3 linked regions of the Homo sapiens genome follow. The protein of the gene in region 2 interacts with the protein of the main gene of each other region in a pairwise test. Each region holds a gene or a part of one and is shown on either strand. Other genes may lie near its edges.

What was found.
Region 1: the proteins of NRIP3 (region 2) and NUTF2 interact in binary tests that used the Homo sapiens proteins (3 or more experiments, as listed by UniProt).
Region 3: the proteins of NRIP3 (region 2) and C14orf119 interact in binary tests that used the Homo sapiens proteins (3 or more experiments, as listed by UniProt).

The regions. Positions count from the first base shown.
Region 1 is NC_000016.10:67,849,794-67,853,542, reverse strand, and holds part of NUTF2 (nuclear transport factor 2), read right to left. Parts: intron 1-3,749. UniProt on the Homo sapiens protein: Mediates the import of GDP-bound RAN from the cytoplasm into the nucleus which is essential for the function of RAN in cargo receptor-mediated nucleocytoplasmic transport.
Region 2 is NC_000011.10:9,001,866-9,005,614, forward strand, and holds the start of NRIP3 (nuclear receptor-interacting protein 3), read right to left. Parts: upstream 2,137-3,749; 5' UTR 2,071-2,136; coding exon 1,897-2,070; intron 731-1,896; exon of another isoform or gene 50-730; intron 1-49.
Region 3 is NC_000014.9:23,093,677-23,097,425, reverse strand, and holds the start of C14orf119 (uncharacterized protein C14orf119), read right to left. Parts: upstream 1,922-3,749; 5' UTR 1,807-1,921; intron 1,794-1,806; exon of another isoform or gene 1,476-1,793; intron 1-1,475. Other genes in the region: ACIN1 (apoptotic chromatin condensation inducer in the nucleus), read left to right, coding at 2,140-2,451.

The sequences.
Region 1 (3,749 bases), on a different chromosome or scaffold from region 2:
CTACTAAAAATACAAAAATTAGCCAAGCATGGTGGCAGGAGCCAGTAGTCCCAACTACTTGGGAGGCTAAGGCAGGAGAATCTCTTGAACCCAGAAGGTGGAGGATGCTGTGAGCCGAGATCGTGCCACTGCACTCCAGCCTGGGAGACAGAGTGAGACTCCGTCTCAGAAATAATAATAATAATTAGCCAAGCGTGATGGTGCGCACCTGTAGTCCCAGCTACTCAGGAGGCTGAGGTGGGAGGACTGCTTGAGCCCAGGAGGTCAAGGCTGCAGTGACCTGAGATGGCACCAACTGCACTTTAGCAGTGCCACAATCACAGCTCACTGCAGACTTGAACTTCTGGGCTGAAGTGATCCTCTTGCCTCACCTCCCAAGTAGCTGGGACTACAGGCACCCACCACCATACCTGGCTGGTTTCTATTTATTTAATTTATTTTAAAGACAGGGTCTCACTGTTGGTAAAAGAGTGAGACCTTATCTCATTAAAATAAAATAAAATAAAATAAAAAGGCTGCTGATGTACCCTAAGAAAAACTTTAAAAAGAAAGAAAAAAAGGGCCGGGAGCGGTGGCTCATGCCTGTAATCCCAGCACTTTGGGAGGCCAAGGTGGGTGGATCACCTGAGTGAGGTCGGGAGTTCGAGACCAGCCTGACCAACATGGAGAAACCCCATCTCTACTAAAAATACAAAATTAGCCAGGCGTGGTGGCACATGCCTGTAATCCCAGCTACTAGGGAGGCTGAGGCAAGAGAATCGCTAGAACCCAGGAGGCAGAGGTTGCAGTGAGCCGAGATCACGCCATTGCACTCCAGCCTGGGCAATAAGAGCGAAACTCTGTCTCAAAAAATAAAAAAATAAAGAAATAAAATAAAGAAAAAAAGGCCAGGCATGGTGGCTCAAGCTTATAATCCCAGCACTTTGGGAAGCTGAGGTGGGCGGATCGCCTGAGGTCAGGAGTTTGAGACCAGCCTGGCCAACATGGCAAAACCCCATCTCTACTAGAAATATTAAAATTAGCCGGATTATACCGGCAGGCGGGTATAATCCCAGCCACTCGGAAGGTTGACACAGGAGAATTGCTTGAACCCGGAGGGCGGGGGTTGCAGTGAGCCGAGACTGCGACACTGCACTTGAGCCTGGGCAAGAGTGACACTTCACTCCAGCCTGGGTGAAAAAAAAAAAAAAAGAAAAAAAGATAATAGTGTTTTGTTAAGGGAAACCTAGCCTTTTTTTTGGAGACAGGGTCTTGCTAGAGTGTCCCCAGGCTACAGTGCAGTGGCATGATCATAGCTCACGGTTCCTTGACCTCCTGCAGCCTCTTGAGCAGCTGGAACTACAGGTATACAACACCACAACCACACTGGCTATTTTTTTATTTTTCTTTTGTAGAAATGGGTATTGCTATGTTGACAAGGCTAGTTTTGAACTCCTGGCCTCAAGCAATGCTCCAGCTTCAGAGCTGGTGCTGAATCCTAGAATTTTTGATATAAGGTGGCTTCTAGTTATGAATTTTTTTTTTTCAAGATGGAGTTTCGCTGTTGTTGCCCAGGCTGGAGCGCAATGGCACAGTCTCAGCTCACTGCAAGCTCCGCCTCCCAGGTTCAAGCGAGTCTCCTGCCTCAGCCTCCTGAGTAGCTGGGATTACAGGCATGCACCACCACGCTCAGCTAATTTTCATATTTTTAGTAGAGACAGGGTTTTTCCATGTTGGTAAGGCTGGTTTTGAACTCCTGACCTCAAGTAATCCACCCACCTCAGCCTCCCAAAGTGCTGGGATTACAGGCGTGAGCCACTGCGCCCAGACTTGTTCTGAAATTTGAAAATTCTGTGTCTCCAGGGTGGAAACATCACACACCGGGGCCTGTCCTGGGGCGGGGGTAGCGGGGAGGGATAGCATTAGGAGATACACCTAATGTAAATGACGAGTTAATGGGTGCAGCACATCAACATGGCGTTATGTATACATATGTAACAAAACTGCAAGTTGTACACATGTACCCTAGAACTTAAAGTATAATAATAATAAAAAAAACAAAATTCTGGTCTCCCTTGTTTTTTGAGACAGGGTCTCACTCTGTCACCAGGCTGCAGTGCAGTGGCACAATCTTGGCTCACTGCAACGTCCGCCTCCCTGGTTCAAGCGATTCTCCTGCCTCAGCCTCCCAAGTAGCTGGGATTACAGGCACCTGCCACCATGCTCAGCTAATTTTTGTATTTTTAATAGAAACAGAGTTTCACTATATTGGCCAAGCTGGTCTCCAACTCCTAACCTCGTGATCCGCCCACCTCGCCCTCCCAAAGTGCTGGGATTACAGGCATGAGCCACCGCACCCTGCCTATTCTGTGTCTCTCTTAAGTAATTATTCCCCTCCCAAACCACCAACTCCAAAGGCAACGGAATAAAACAAGACATGGCTCAGAGAGAAGAGATGGGCTCGGCCAGGTGCGGTGGCTCACACCTGTAATCCTAGCACTTTGGGCAGCCAAGGCGAGTGGGTCACTTGAGGTCAGGAGTTCAAGACTAGCCTGGCCAATATGGTGAAACCCCATCTCTACTAAGAATACAAAAATTAGCTGGGTGTGGTGGTGGGCACCTGTAATCTCAGCTACTCGGGTGGCTGAGGCAGGAGAATTGCTTGAACCCAGGAGGCGGAGGTTGCAGTGAGCTGAGATTGCACCACTGCACTCCAGCCTGGGCAACAGAGCGAGGCTCTGTCTCAAAAAAAAATAGTGATAGGCAGATAGGCTCCTATACACGAAGGGACATAATTTTGAGCTAATTGAGAACTGAGGCATCTTGTATCCTGCCTCATCCTTGTGCGGCAATATCCCAACCACCGCATGCCAGGTCCCACTTCCAAGTCAGCCCTACATGAATAGAGGATGCAGATAGATCCTGGAGAACCTCAGGCCACTTCTCTTATATCTGAGACCTAGATGGCCCGCCAAGTTCCAGAAACATTTAACGAATTCTCAGGATCAGGATGCCTAGCAATGGCTAGCTGACCTCAGACAAAGAGGTTACAGGGAACGGCCAGGCGCGGTGGCTCACGCCTGTAATCCCAGCACTTTGGGAGGCCAAGGCGGGTGGATCACGAGGTCAGGAGATCGAGACCATCCTGGCTGACATGGTGAAACCCTGTCTCTACTAAAAACACACAAAAAATTAGCCGGGCGTGGTGGCGGGTGCCTATAGTCCCAGCTACTCGGGAGGCTGAGGCAGGAGAATGGCGTGAACCCGGGAGGCGGAGCTTGCAGTGAGCCGAGATCGCGCCACTGCACTCCAGCCTGTGAGACAGAGTACGACTCCATCTCAAAAAAAAAAAAAAGAAGTTACAGGGAACTTCTAGAGGTTGGAATGAGAGGGAGGGACCTGAATTCCTCCTACTCTTGAGTAACGTTGGAGAAGGAAAAGTATCTTTTTGTCCCTGAAGAAAACCCTTGTGATCACTGGGCAATTGTTCACATCTGTAATCCCAGCACTTTGGGAGGCTGAGGTGGGAGTATCGCTTGAACTCAGGAGTTTGAGACCAGCCTGGGCAACATATGGAGATGACATCACTGCAAAAAATAAAAATAAGGCCGGACGTGGTGGCTCACGCCTGGAATCCCGGCACTTTGGGAGGCCGAGACGGGCGGATCACGAGGTCAGGAGATCGAGACCATCCTGGCTAACACGGTGAAACCCCGTCTCTACTAAAAATACAAAAAGTTAGCTGGGCGTGGTGGTGGGCGCCTGTAGTC
Region 2 (3,749 bases):
TCCATGACGGTGGGGCACAGAAAGCGTGAACCATGATTCAGAGCCTTACAGTCAACTGTCATGTGTATGTGTCATACTCAAGGCAATATCCTGCTTCTTGAGGCTCCTTCCTCTTTGCAGCCTGCTGCCTGTGCTGTATGCTATCAGCCCTTTGTGACTCAACTGAGACAGACTAGAGTCAGAAAAGCGGATGGAATTCTTACACAGCATGAAGTAGTATAAGAAATCCTAGGCAGAAGGAAGTTCAGGTAGCTCTCAGGGCTAGGAAACTCCTCGACAACGAGGGACAACCAAATCCAGCATTTAAAAACTCTGTATTTTAATTCTTCTCTTAATATAATACTTCCTTCTTTATTGATTGCTGAGCATTCTAGGAACTAGGATAGGATTATTTGGCCTGAAGGAAAGAATACTTCTCGAACCTGATTTGTTAAATGAATCGAGATTGCTTTAAAGTGAAAGAAGGGAAAAGAGAGTTATCTCTTTTGCAGGAGCACATTTCAATCACTTATCACTCTGGGTTAGCATAAATCAGATAAACTATCCTGTGGGTTGTGCAAAAAGCAAAACAAAACAAAAAAACACAACTTGTAAAAAAAACAGAGCAAGATAACTGAAGTAGACAAACTCTGCACAGAAGTAACTAATGGCAGGGAGGAGAAAAATTTTTGTATATTATATTATACTGTGTATAATATAATGTACCTGTGTATCATTAGAGCTGTTAAATTAAAAAAAAAAAAAAAAAAAAAAGGAAATGGATGCAGAAGCTCTGCCCTCCTGGGGCCAGAAATGGCAATTTCAGTGAACTAGGGCCGACAACCACATCCAAAATTAAATATTTCAAAAGCTTAAAATAAAAAATACTAGAAAAATTATGCAGAGCACCTATTTCATTTGTTAAAAGACATTTAATTAGTGTTTCACATATTACCACCCAAATGAATAAAGCGATTGTGAAATTCAAGAAAACAATCAAACTACAAGAAAACTCCAGATAAAACTACAAAGTTAAACATAAACTTGGCCCAGGACCACTACAGTGGCTGAGGGATGACAAATACAGTTCTTTATATTGGTAACCCTTAGCCATCCATCCCATTCTATAGAAAGAGGACAGTACCATCTTTGACCCCAGGCCCCCTGTCCTGAGGTGCTTCTACTTAATGCCAGGAACAACTGTGCTAGAAAAAAAGACTGCACCCACCCCAGCTCCAGATGCACACATTAGCTGGTCGGTGAGATGCAGCAGCCTGGCTTCCTCCCTCTACCCACTCCTTGGGGGCGGGGCTGGAAGAGGAGAATGATGAAGAGATGTTGGGGGTTCAGGAAACCTTCACATTTGGCCCCTTTTCTCTCTCCCCACTCAGGATGGAAGGTCAAAGTTAGGACCAAAACTAGAGAAGTGGGTTTTGCATAGGGGGACAATGGATTCAACAGAAGTCCTCTGGATCTGGCAACTGTCAAAAAACCCTCTTTCCACTTCTTTCCCCCTCACGGAAAGCCATTAGGAATCACCTCTGTCTGGGTCATAGGAACAGCCACACAGCATAGGAGGCACAAGCCCCGTGAACAAAATTCGGTATTAAGAATAAGGAAAAAGAAAGAAGACCCGAGGGCAAGAGGGCAGGGCAGGACCTCTTCTTTCTACTGGAGAAGAGACATCCAGGGAGGAGGCACAGCCGAGGGGAGCGCAAGCTAGAAAAGCTACGACGGAATCCCCACCGAAACCGCAGCAGGGGTACTGGAAGGGGAGGAATCCGCGACGCAGCGACCGCGAGCCAAGGGCAGCGGCGGGCCGGGCCGTGACTCAGTGAAAGCCGCAACGGCCGGGCCTCGGAAAACGGCGGGCGCGAAGCCGCCGGGGCCGGGGCGAGAACGGCGGCGGGGGCTCACCATGTCCTTGGACGAGCCCAGCTTCTTGAGGCCGTCCAGGGGCAGCAGGTCGGCGGAGTCCTTGTGGATGAACTGCACCGCCTGCTTCATCCGGCGCTGCTGTCGCAGTGACGCCGCCTCCCGCATGTCGGTCTCCTTGCGGCCGCCCTCAGTGAGGAGCCCTGAGTAAAACATCGCTGAGGCGCCGGCGGCCCGGTAGCCCACAGCCCCCCGGCAGCCTCAGCCTCGAGCTCCTCCAGCGCCGCAAGGGCCCCGAGCCGCGCCTTTTATAGCCGAGCGTGACGTCGCGGGGAGCAGCCAGTGCGCGCGCGGGGGGCGGGGCCGGCACAGAGTCCACGCCCCGCGCGGCTCCCTCGCGTCCCGCGTCCCGCGTCCCGCGTCCCCTGCTCACCCGGTGGCAAAGCCGGCGAGGAGGCGGCGGCGCTGGTGGGGACTGACCCGGCAGTCCGAGAATCCACCGCGGCCTTTTCACCCAACCGCCCCCTCCTGCGTGGGGGCCCCGCATCCCCTGGACTGGCGTGGGCTCTGGGGCCCGATGCCCTGGCAGCCCCGGCCATCTCTGCCGCTGGCCGCGGGTACCTGCTCACCTGTCCACGCCGTGGCCGACCCGGGGATCACCGACAGCCGGGCCATGCCTCGAGTCCCGCCGCCCGCGCCGCTGCTCGGCTTCTCAGAAACGCACCTCCACGCCGCCAGCCGGGGCTCCAGGGTCCACCGCCCGGGCCCGGAGGACTGGCGACTCCCTCCGAGGTTGGGAGCGCTCCGGATTTCTCCAACTTCAGGTCGGTCCCCACCCACCGGGCCACGTGACTGGGGAGGGGGCAGCCGGTGCAGGCGTGTGGAGGAGGCTTTCGGGACCTCCTCCCCCGGGCACCCTCTGCCTGCAGCCCGGCACCCGGCCCGCGTTTCCGAGCCGGGGGAGCAGGTGCAGTCGGAAGCCCGCGGGTGGGCGTGGGGCGGGGGAGTGGCGAGGGTCCCCCGCCTCCGCGGGAGCGCACGCGGCTGCGAGCCCTACACCTGCTCTCCGACCAAAGAAGCACCTGTTTTTCTCAATAAGTGCTAGGGCTTACCATCTAAAGGATCGTTCACCATCCCTCCAGCGTCCTTAGTAGGAGCGATTGGAACCCGTTTTTCTTCCTGAATAATCCATACTTTTAAGCCATTCTAATCGGGCCTTCAGGCATCCTGGATTCTGGTCTCGACATTGTGATTTGACACAAATCACGTTTTCACTCTGGAAACCACAACTACTCCCTCCACCCCATCACGCAGGAGCAGACCTGGATAAGAAATATGTGCACTCTGCAAAGAACCAATGATAAAAGTAACAATATCGACGCTTACTGAGCCTTTACTATGTGCCAGGTACTAGACTAGACACTTAAAATGCAGTATCTCATTGGATCCTGGCAACAGCTTGTAAGATAGTATTCTCATCACCCCCATTTTACAGGCAAATACCTGATACCTTCTGTCTGGCCTCCTGAATGCTCCTTGGTTCCATTCCAATACGTTGTTCACTGTGCTGCCAGAGTAATCTTCTCAAACGATAAGTGTGATCATCTCACTTCCCTGCTAAGAGCACCTCAAAAGGCTTCCTATTGCTCTTAGGAGAAACCCACATTCTTGCATGGTCTGCCTAGACCCTGCATATTCACTCTGTACTTCAGCCTCATGGGCCTTCTTCCAGTTCCTTCCAGTCACCTGTTGCCAAATGGCCTGCCTTTGACTGTCCTGTTCCCTCTGTGTGCAGTGCCCCCTCCTACCCTCTTCAGGAAACTCCTATGCTTCTTCCAGACCTCAGCTCCATTATCATTTCTTTAGGAAAGCCTTCTCTGACCTTCCAGAGAGAG
Region 3 (3,749 bases), on a different chromosome or scaffold from region 2:
CTTCCCCACCCACTGTCTTCCTCCATCTTTCTTATAAAGAACCTAAAAATAACCAATATATTTCTTGTTCATTCTCTTCCTCTTACTTCTATGTGCCAGGTTGGGTAAAGAAAAAAACAATGATTAATGTTGGTCCATTACATCTTCTCCAAAATGAAAATGCACACATTTTAAAATCTAGTACGTGCAGCTGGTCAAGGCTGATGCTAATTGTTTTGCAGCTATCAACAGTGGGGGAAGAAAGAAAAAACATTATTTATGATGAAAGAGCCTTCAATGTGCATATAAGCCTCTGAAATATGCCAACAACTCCATAACATCCGTTACCTCCTTACATTTCCTGTAAAGCACCAGGAAAAGTTAAAAAGCAGAGTAAGGACCTTGCTCAAAATAAGGTAACGCATGAAAGAACCAGAAGCCCGGGTGTTTGAGACGTTCTTAAAAAAGAGTCCAGTTGGTTTGTTGGCTTAGAGATCTAACAAGTGTTATACTATTTTATGACAATCCATGTCTTTAAACAATTGTCCTTAATATTTAGTATGGGCCAGACGCGGTGGTTCTTGCACTTCCAAAGTAATCTCAGCACTTTGAGAGGCCGAGGCAAGAGGATCGCTTGAGCCCAGGTGTTCGAGACCAGCCTGGGCAACATGGCAAAACCTCATCCCTACAAAAAATAAAAAAATTAGTTGAGCGTAGAGGTGCCTACCTGTAGTCCTAGCTACGTAGGAGACTGAGGTAGGAGCATCACCTGAGCCCGGGAGGTTGAGGCTGCAGTGAGCCCTGATCGCGCCACTGCACTCCAGCCTGCGTCAGAGTGGAGGGACCCAGAGTGGAGTGACAAAAAAAAAATTTTTTTTTTTTTTTAGTATGGTATCTATTGGTGCCTTGCAATTTTTTTTTTTTTTTTTTTTTTTTTTGAGACGGAGTCTTGCTCTGTCACCCAGGCTGTAGTGCAATGGCGTGATCTCAACCACTGCTTCCTGGGTTCAAGCGATTCTCCTGCCTCAGCCTCCCGAGTAGCTGGGACTATAGGCGTACGCCACCACGCCCGGCTAATTTGTTTGTATTTTTAGTAGAGACGGGGTTTCACCATATTGGCCAGACTGGTCTCCAACTCCTGACCTCAAGTGATCCGCCCGCCTCGGCCTCCCAAAGTGCTGGGATTATAGGCGTAAGCCACCGCGCCCGGCACCTTGCCACTGATTTTGCATCATGAATGCAACGGAAAGATCAGCCAATTTGACTTTAATAGTTTTCAGTCTCTTAAATCTCTAACGTATCTCTTAAATCTCTAAACTATTTGTCTGTGACCTATTTTACTGTTTGTGTTTCTTCTGCATCAAGTTGGAGGATTGGTAGTGACAAAGAAAGAAGCCCCTAAACAATTAATATTAGTTCAAGTACCAAAAAAGTTCAGGGCGCTTGCATTTTCCAGTTCTTGCCCTACAGGAAGCAGTTCCTCCAAGGGAACTTACTCTCTTCTGCGGAGCAAGGAAGAACTTTCCCAGAATCTTGCCACATGGCTTCCAAGGCAAACTCAAACTCAAGTTCAGCGTCATAGATCAGTTCATAGTCTGGGTCCGAAGACACGGCGATGCTTCTTGCGCACCCCCACGGAGCTTGTTATTCCGATTCCGCACCAGCCCCCCGCCCCTCCCCAAAAAAAGCCTAAGATGGGAGTGGCTATGATTCAGAGGACAGAGGGCAGAAGCTGTTTGCGTTAAGGAGTGGGGGGCTTGCCCTATTAAGGTAATCCGCAAACACCGAGTCTGACCCGGCCCATAGAGGTACTTCTACCCCGCTTACCTCCCCTTTTCTCTCGAAGGGCACCCGAAGATTGTCACGAGTCCTTAGACTCCAACTACTGCGGCAGCTTCCAAATTTCCTGAAAACCCTAAGCTGGGCCAGCCCGGCAGCCCACGCACTTCCGGCCTCGGACCCGCCCCAAACACCCAAGCGCCCCAGCGCCTCATCTCTAGGTCCGGAAATAAACGAACATCTCCGATTATGGTTATACCAGGGTCGAGGGTTTCCGAATATATTCGATTCAAAGCTTCGGCAAGACGAAGAAAACCGAGCCTGAAAGCAGGGCGAGAAAAGGGGCGCTGCAGGGCGGATGGAAAGAATTGATTGGTAACGATGTGGAGACGGAAACATCCGAGGACATCCGGAGGAACCCGGGGAGTTCTGAGTGGTAATCGAGGGGTAGAGTATGGCAGTGGGCGGGGTCATCTCGGTACGTTCGAAGGGCGTTGGCGGAAATTACCGAAGATGCCCGAAGCCGTCGGGACGGACCCGAGTACCTCACGCAAGATGGCGGAGCTGGAGGAGGTGACTCTGGACGGGAAGCCTCTTCAGGCGCTGCGGGTGACCGACCTGAAGGCCGCACTGGAGCAGCGAGGCCTAGCCAAGAGCGGGCAGAAGAGTGCCCTGGTCAAGCGGCTCAAAGGGGTGAGGAGTCGGCGTTGCTGGGGTGTCGGAGGAGAGCGGACCCGGTAGAGACGAGCCTCTGCCGCGGCGCAGGCGCAGTATCCGGGCTCGGCGCGAGCTCGCTCAGGCCGCCAGCGCGAGCCTCTGGATCCGCGCGCACGGTGGTTGATGAGGTTCGCGCTGGAATGGAGATCGCGCCGGTTCCCGCCTTAACGGCAGCAGCGCGAGCCCAAATGGGAGGGTGTGCACTACTCTCCAGGAGTGTCTTAAGCTCCTTCCTCCTTCCCCCACCCCCTCCTTGTTTGTATCTGTGGTTTCGGCGCATGCGCTGCAGAAGGAGTTAAATCCCACTACAACCTACGGCGTTGCTGGCCTGAGGGGGGCGAGTTGGGCTGGGTCGGAGTTAGGGGTATAGTTGCGCGAAGGGGTGGATGGGGTTGGTATCGGTATCTGCACGAATAGGACTGGGGTAGGGTAAAATGTCTGCTCGATTAGATGAGGAGGTGAGATGAAGAGAGACCTTTATTTGAAGGGACTTGATGAGAGAGAGGTCTCTAATTTAGTGGCATCTAGTGGCAATTTGGGTGGTTAAGAGTTTGGTGAATATTGGTGAGAGAGGCGAGGCAGGTTGATATATATTGGGGATTTTGAATCGGTTTGAGTAGATTAAGGTGGGATTGTCATGAGGTAGGTGTAGCTCGATTCAAGTGTATAGGTTTGGTTTAAAGAAGGGAAGATGAGGATGTCTTGGTTTTAATTAGAGTTCAACAGGATACGTGGCAGGTAGTGCAGATTAGGTCTGGGTTGGCTCCAGGGTTGAGTTGGCAGACCGTTGCTTATACAGAAGCTGATAGTTTTGTGTGTGTGTGTTTGTGTGTGTGTGTTTGTGTGGATAGACTAGGTTAGACCACAGTTTACAGGGTCTGTGGTCATTTTCTTCTGTAGCTTCCTCTTTGAAAATTTTATAAATTTGATAAATCTAGGTGCCACAGTACTGGAAATTATACAAATTGACCCTGGTACTGGGTAACCCTTTGACCAAGTAATTCCGTCAGGCAAAAACCAGGAGCCCCATGGCTGGTTTGAGTATTTTAAGTAATTTTACATGCATGATCAGATTTAGAAGGGGCACTTGGCGAAAGTGCAGAAGATAATAGGGATTTTAGTACTGGTTCTATTACTGATATTATGACATAGCCAGGTCACTGATTCTGTGTGCCTGCATTTTATATCTGTACATTTAGTAACAGTAACCATGGCTACCTTTATGGGTCTTCTGAAGATGAATGAGAACAGTGTTAGTAAAGGGTTTTCAGGTC